Linked DNA regions of Homo sapiens. The protein of the gene in region 2 purifies or fractionates together with the protein of the main gene of each other region. This does not show direct contact. Each region holds a gene or a part of one and is shown on either strand. Other genes may lie near its edges.

Region 1 (3,500 bases), on a different chromosome or scaffold from region 2:
AAGGCATCCAGGAGGCCAGGCCGCTTGTCGGTCTATCTGGAGTTCAGATTTATCGAAGGCAAACAGTCCTCTAACCTCCATCTGGAGCACCCTCTGGGACAGTCAAATCCTACCCTTTGGGGTAAGAAATTGGCTTCCCCAGGCTCTGCCCCAGTATTAATCCTGCTTTGCTTGGTGCGCACCATTCCCAAAAAGCTTTCCACTTCCCACCTCATCTGTTCTTTACGACCCTGCCAGGTAAGCAGTTATCAACCCCATCTTAGAAAGGAGGAATCGGAGGGGGAAGGAGATTCAGCCACAGCTGACAGAGGTCCTGGCCTCCTTCTATTTGTCCCAGGGACAATGTCTGTCCATATCTGCATTTGTCCTGGCTTCTCTCTCTGACACACACACACACGCTTCTTCCAGTGGCTTCTGGAAAAAAGAATAAGCCCCAGAGTGAAGAGCTACCAGCCACCAGCTGAATGTTTGGGCACTTGAATTTCAATCTATGTTTCTGGGCTGTGCTGCTTTGGACCCGTGGTTCTGGAGCTGGGCTGGGTCCCCTGAACCTGTGGACATCTGGCAGCCTAATGCTGGGCTGAGTCCCAGGCATGAGGGAGGCCAGAAGGATAGGGCAGATTGGGTGAGAGGGGAGATAGTGAAGAGCCAACAAGGACAGAGGGAGGGCTGAAGCCAGAGGCCCCAGATGGGCCGGCTTGGCAAAGGAGGGCCTGGGATGCAATCCGCCGGCAGGCTGGGGCTGGAGAGGCACTGTTCTTGAAGAGCCTCAGGCCTGCTCTATTAATTCTAGCTCCTTTGGTTTTGGAATTGATTTCCCTGAGGGGTCTCCTTAGCCCTGGAAACCTCCCTCAGGGGCTTGGCTGGTAAAGCTGCTGAAGTCTGGAGGGGAATATACAAGCTGAGCAGGGCAGGGACAGCCGGCCTGGCTGTCAATATCAAGGCAATGCAGGGCTGGCATCTTGTTTGTGAAACGGGTCCCTTAGGCGGGCTCCCCCGGGGAGCCCCAGCTCTTCACAGACCAGCTGCTCCCCGCTGCCGGCTGGTGCAATCAGAGTCTGAGAAGCAGAGCCATAGCAGGCAAGAGCCCACCTGGAGGTACCCAGCGTAGAGCTGCTGCACGTGGACACTCCACAACCCAAGGACGCTGTTAGTGAAAAAACTGGGGAGTTGGGGGAGGGAGCAGAGGCAGGGGTGGGGGACATTTTCCAGGGCCTACCCCAGATGGGTCAGGCGGCTGTTCCCTGAGAGCCTCATATCCTGACATCACGCCACGCCCAGCTGAGAGGTATACAGACCCCCAGAGGTTCACTAACAGGGTTCAGAGAAAGCGCTCCTCTGACAACTTTAATCTTGGTTCCCAGTGTCGGACCCTGTTGATTTTAATGGGCCAAGACCCAATCGTTTTGATAAATCCTATGATTACCTTATAGCATTGTAACTGTTGTGTCATTTATATAAACACTTAATATACATCACATATTTTGTGACCCTATTTCAGCATGTGTTTCACTTTGGTATTGCAGGACCTCTCATGCAGCCGCCCAGGGCCAGTTGCCCAGGTTCCCGTTCATCTCTGAGAGGTGCTGCTGTTCTAAATTTCCTCCCCATTCCCTAAACCAGGGACAAACAAATGAGCAGTGACCCGTGCCCTGGAAGAGCCTGCCTGGGCACTGCAGTCTGGCCCTGAGTGGTCCTCAGTGTTGTGTGGGCTTGGAGAAGACTTCTGCCAGGTCACTGGGTTTCAGAGGGCGAGGATGGGAGCCTGCGTAGAGCCATCCTCAGCCCTTTGTGGCCTCTGTTGTTATTTTCAAAATCCTCAGGGTCCACATAGATAAGGAACAGGACTCAGTCCCTGTGAGAGGCTTTGAGCACCCCCTACGTCACCTGGGCCACTTGGAGGTGGACAGAAGCCCAGAAGAGTATAGGCAGATCCCCCCACCTGGAGACATATACATATTTCTTACAAGGGAAGAAAAGGTGTCTATCACATTGTTTTCTTCTTATATCTTTATTTATTTAGTTAGTTATTTTTTTAAAGATAGGGTCTGGCTCTGTTGCCCAGGCTGGAGTGCAGTGGTGCAATCATAGCTCACTGCAGGCTTGGACTACCTGGGCTCAAGCCATCTTCCTGCCTCAGCCTCTCAAGTAGCTGGGACTACAGGCGTGCGCCACCACACCTGCTTAATTTTTAAATTTGTAGTAGGGGGAGGGGGGGTCTCACTGTATTGCCCAAGCTGGTCTCGAACTCCTGGCTTCAAGTGATCTTCCTGCCTTGGCCTCCCAAGGTGCTGGGATTATAGGCCTGAGCCACTGTGCCTGGCCTCCCTTCTTATATCTTTATTGTTTTGCTGACTACACAGGAAATAGATGCTCTTGTAAAATTTTCAAGTGCTATGGAAATTAACTTAGAAAGTAAAAGAAAATCCCCTTTCATTTGGCTCATCCACTCTTCAGAGAGAGCCGCTATTATTCAGTTGTATTTTTCTAAATATCCTGCAACATACATATATCATTCATAATAAAAACGGGCTTATAATAGTGTTCAGCTACAGTTTTAAACAATATCTTAATAATACATCTTGGACATTTTTCCATGTCACTACAAAAGCTTCACTTCGCTCTATCATACTCCATCATAGGGATGACCATATTTATTTTTCTGTCCCCCAGTGAAGCACATTCTCCCCTCCACCCACTGAAATTGTTAGTATTTCCGAAGAACACTGTAATAGACATGTTTGTTCATATAACTTTCTGCGCACATACGAGTATATCTATGTAGGCTAGATTCTTGGAAGGGAGTAGGATGTTCACCTTGGCCCCATGAATGTCTGCTTGCCCCTGGAAGAGAACTCATCTTATCTTTACATTCTTAGTTGCTTTCAAAGGGGTAGCAAAAGCTAAGGCATTTCTCTTTGGAGCCACAACTTTGCTGCTCGCAGATGGTCAGTAAAATAGGAGCCCGGTGGCCTGTCTAATCAGAACCATAAATAAAGGACAGTGTGAACTCTGAACTGGGCATCCCTCAGCCACCTGGATCCTTTAGAGGGGGAAAGGTCCTGATACAGAAGTGTCCAGGAAGCAACAGAGCAATGGGCTCAGATACGTAAGGCCACGTCAGGGCCACTCGGAGCATGGAGGTGATGTTCGGAAGAGCCCTAGACCCCACCAGGGTCACTGGGTGGGCTTGGCTGTCATCTTCCCTACCTCAGCCTTTGAGAGACAACATTGGAACCCTCCCAAACGCATGCTCTTGGCTGACTGCTGAGGCAGAGTTGGTGGAGTGGTATTGCGGACTAGGAGACCAGATTCCTGGTTCCCCCTTCACCTCTTCCTGCTTTGCTGTGTGATCTTGTGAAAAGAATTTTGCCTCTTTGAGTCCTAGTTTCTCACTCTCCAAACATACACTTCTTCCTTTCTCTACCACAAAGCTAATAAGAATTTTGAAAATAATCCAACTCTTTAGGGTGATGGTGGCTTTTTCTGTTTTGGAATGG
Region 2 (4,064 bases):
CTTGAGCTGGATTCCAGCCGGGGTGCGCCCCAGCCCGCGCGACGATTCTGGGCGTTAGGAGGGAGAGTGGGCGGGCAGCTCCAGCCACGTGCAGTCTGGGCGGCGCCAAGGTCCCGACCTTTAACCCCTGACCCCGGTCCCACCCTCCACGTGGAGCGAGCCAAACTTCCACAGACAGACGCATGCAAGTCTTTCCACCGAAAAACCTGAAAACCTTCCGTGCGTTATCATGCCGGGTAACCAAGCCCACCAAAGTTAGCAAAGATGTTTAAAATGTTTTATTTTTTTTTCTTTTTAAAAATATTTACAGATCTGAACTCTCCCCTTTTCGTCCCTACCATCCTCGGGATGAGGGAAACGAAAAGAAGCAATTTAGTAATTGTCCAAAGCCTCTGAGGGCCTGGCTTGGCCGAGCGTGTATGCATGTACATATATACAGGTGTATATATGGGGGAGGAGTGTACCTGGTTTTGTAGGTGTTTTCCTGATTTTTTTCCCTACCAACCACAGCCTGTCTGGCCAAAACTCCCTTTCCCACCACCACCCGAGAACATCTCACTCCGAATGGTTTTCAAAGCGTACTGGTTCGGTCTAGGTAGGAAGCAGGCTCTCTGACTTAGGGAATGCCAATAAATACCCGAAACAATCAAAACAAAAAGTAGGGCAGAGACCATAAATAAGAGCTAATGAATACACATGGTGTATTTCTTCATATTTCTGGAAACACGCCGCCTTGCTCCGGAGCCCTGCTTACAGTACAGTACGCGCCCGGCTCTGCGGGCAGCTGGGGGCGGCGCGGGGCGGCGGGCCGGTCAGTAGTCGAGCTTGTTGTATAGGTTGTAGAGAGGTAAGGCCGAGAGGTTGCTTCCCGGGTAGTAGAGCGGCGCGGGAAAGGCGAGCGAGCGCGGCACCGGCACGCGCAGCAGCGAACTGTCCCGGAACACCAGCGGCATGCTCACCAGAGTCTGCGCCGACGCGTGCGCCATGTTGGCCGCCTCCAGCTCAGCCGAGAGCTGCCGCTTCCACTTGTTGCGGCGGTTCTGGAACCAAGTCTTTACCTGGGTCTCCGTGAGCTGCAGGCTGGAGGCGAGGCAGGCGCGCTCCGAGCTGCTCAGGTAGCGCTTCATGTCGAAGGTGGACTCGAGCTGGTACACCTGGCTGCGCGAAAAGACGGTGCGCGTCTTCTTCTTGGCCGCGCCGGCCTGCCGCTCAGCGCCGCCGTCCCGCGGCCGCTCGGACCCCGGCGAGGGCGAGCCCGCGGGCAGGAGCCTCTCTTTCTCTTCTTTAAAGTCCGAGTGCGAAGGAGAGAGGAAAGGCGTGCGCTCCAAGCCGCCCGGGCCCGAGCCTCCGCTGCCCTTGGGGGTACCTGAGGAGCGAGAACAGACAGAAAGGCCATGGAGTTGGTTGGGGAGCCTCGGAGACCGCCAGCTCTCCCTGGGACCAAGCGGTTGGCAAGCGCCTGCAGCCTTGGTCCCACCTTACCAATCCCCTCCTCTTATCCCTCTCACTGGCCCCCCAAACCCAGCACCCCGTCCTTTAAAAGCGACAAGAGAGGGACCCAGCTACTTGGAGTATGGGGTCTCTGTGCTCCCACCTTTATGAATGGGCCAGGGGCAACAGGGAGAGGAGGTCTGGAGGGGGAAACATTAGCATGGTTTTAAAAGGCGAATTTGCTTGGTGGTAATTGAGCTGGAAGAGTTCCTCGAGCTTTATAGGGTGGCATCATTTCACAGGCCGTTTGTTTGGAAATCACGCTAAGGACTAACGCAGGACTCCCCTTCGTCAAATGTTGTAAAGAGGAACCGTCTCTGAAATGCACCATTGTCAATCATCTTGGAGTGCTAATCATTCCAAGGAGGAGAGAGAGAGAAAGGCAGAGATACGGAGCGAGTGAGGAAGAAGACTCAGAAAGAGATTACGGTGGAGACAGACTGCCCAGACCCGACTTGCAGATCTCCACCTCGTGTCCGGAAAGAAAGTACCAGATGTGCAGTGATTGAGGACAGCCGGGTGTAAGGCCGGCCGCGTGTCCCTCTCGCTGTGGTCCACTCTCTCAACAACTCAACCTTCCCCAGGAAGCCCAAGCCGGCACGGGTCTGTGTTCGCCTGCTCCCAGGGGCCCACCGGGCGGAGGAGGCACCACAGTGCGCGCCCCTCTCCCCGCGGTCCCGAACCCCCGGCTGCCGCAGCTCTGGCCAGAGGGGGCCCGGCGCGGGAGTCTTGGCGGGGCGCTCAGCCTCCCTCCCCTCGCGCTCGCTCGCTGCCACACTGGCGACGTGCGATCCTTACCCAGGCAAGGAAAAGGGATGGGGGGATGGTGCTTGGGGCCCTGCTCCTTAGGGCCGTGCTGGTCTGGGCAGAAGCAGGCGGGCGCCTTCCAGCCGTCGTCCGGCTCCTCCTCCTCCGAGGACACGGACAGGCTGCGCTTCCTGGCTGGCCAGCCGACGGGCTCCCGCGGTGCCTCCGAGGGGCCCCCGCCCAGGATGGACTGGATGGTGAAGCTGGAGACGCCACCGGCCGCCGGACACCCCTTGCCCGCATCTTCTTTGCTGCCCATCCTGGGTTCATAAGAAATCGAAGGAAACCAAGAACTCCCTTTAGAGACGATCTGGGTGATCTGGGTGGAAGGTGGTGCAGCAGGCAGGCAGTGGGGAGGGGCGGGGAGGAAATCTAGGGGGAGGGGGCGCCGAGGCTGGTGAGGCGTCCCTTCCGCGCCAGGGACATGCAGGCACCGGATGGCTGCGCAGGGGTTCCTGCCCGCCTGGCTCTGGGTGCGCCCGCCCAGCCCCGGTGCAAATGCCCCTTCCTCGCCCGCCAACTCGCCGGGTCTCCGGCGGCGCGGAGGCGGCGCGGCCTCATTTGCATAGAGGTTACCCGAACGCGGCCAATCGCAGCGCCGCCGAGCGGCCCCGGAAAATTTCAAAACGCTCCGGCCAGGCACACAGCACCGGTGCGCCCCCAGAGCGCGCCGAGGGCCTGGCGGGCATCAGCGGCGTCTAACCAGGGGCAGCCAGGGCTGAAAGCAGCTGCAGATTCTAGCCCGGGTTCCTGGCGGCTGCGGCAACTCCGACTCCTTGGACCCCTTGGACCCTTCTCTCCAGAGGCAGGGGCGGTGCGGGACTCGGAGCTGGAGTGGCTCGACGCCTCCGCAGGCGACGGGTCTCCGCGCCTCCCAGGGGCTTGTACAGGCTGCTCCACCATCCTCCCCCAGCCCTCCACCCCTTCTAGCCCCAGTGGGCGGGCAAAGCCGGCACTCCTGGGACCGTGGCGCCCTGCGTGGGGGTGAGGTGGGTTAGGAGCAGGCGTCTCCAGGCGGACGCTCATCCTCTCCAGCATGGCCAGGAGCCTTGGGAGCAGACATTCCCCTTCCCCGTCTGCAGACCTCATCCCTGTCACAGGTTCTACGGACCTACAGAATCTTTAGGGGGAGGGAGGAAGCCCTAAGACCTCTAGTCAAGAGATCTGGGTTCAAATTCCGGCACAACTATTTACACACTGCATGAACTTGCACAACTCATGCCGATTAAAGCCTCTCTGCCCTCATAGTTGAAAATAACTTCTCGGATTGCCTCAGGTAGGGATTAAAAGCCTCGAAGCACTAGCAGCGCATAGTAGGTACTCCATAAACCTGGCCGGGTAGCCCATGGCCCACCCGTGTTTTAAGCGAATCTGTGTTTTTGTTTTGTAAATTTTGAAGGTTTCCGAACTGCTGCAGAAATAGACGCCTTACTCCCAGGAAGAAGATAAGGAACTGGTGACAGGACTCGGTTTTAGAATTGAGCAGACTCGACTCAATTCTCGGCTGGGTGATCTTGGGGGAAGACATTTGGAAATTCTGAGGCTCGGTTTCTTTATTCCTAAAATTGGAGGAAGCAGTGCCTCCCTCGCAGAGGCTGTTGTGAGGTCAAACTACCCAGCACCGAGCCTGGCACACCGTGGTGCTCAGTAAATAGTGATTCCCTCTGTGTTCTCATAGCCCCCTTCTGTGCCCTGGCTCTCGCCCCTTTAATTCCTAGATCAGCTGTTACCCGAGCTAGAATTAGCCCAGCCAAGCAAAGCGGTTT

What was found. The genes of interacting proteins can lie anywhere in the genome.
Region 1: the proteins of HMX2 (region 2) and CALB2 purify together in Homo sapiens (affinity purification with mass spectrometry; one large-scale study listed by BioGRID and IntAct). This does not show direct contact.

What each region holds. Positions count from the first base shown.
Region 1 is NC_000016.10:71,361,723-71,365,222, reverse strand, and holds part of CALB2 (calretinin), read right to left. Parts: intron 1-3,500. UniProt on the Homo sapiens protein: Calcium-binding protein involved in calcium homeostasis and signal transduction. It plays a critical role in buffering intracellular calcium levels and modulating calcium-dependent signaling pathways.
Region 2 is NC_000010.11:123,146,872-123,150,935, reverse strand, and holds HMX2 (homeobox protein HMX2), read right to left. Parts: upstream 2,801-4,064; 5' UTR 2,558-2,800; coding exon 2,290-2,557; intron 1,367-2,289; coding exon 813-1,366; 3' UTR 264-812; downstream 1-263. UniProt on the Homo sapiens protein: Transcription factor involved in specification of neuronal cell types and which is required for inner ear and hypothalamus development.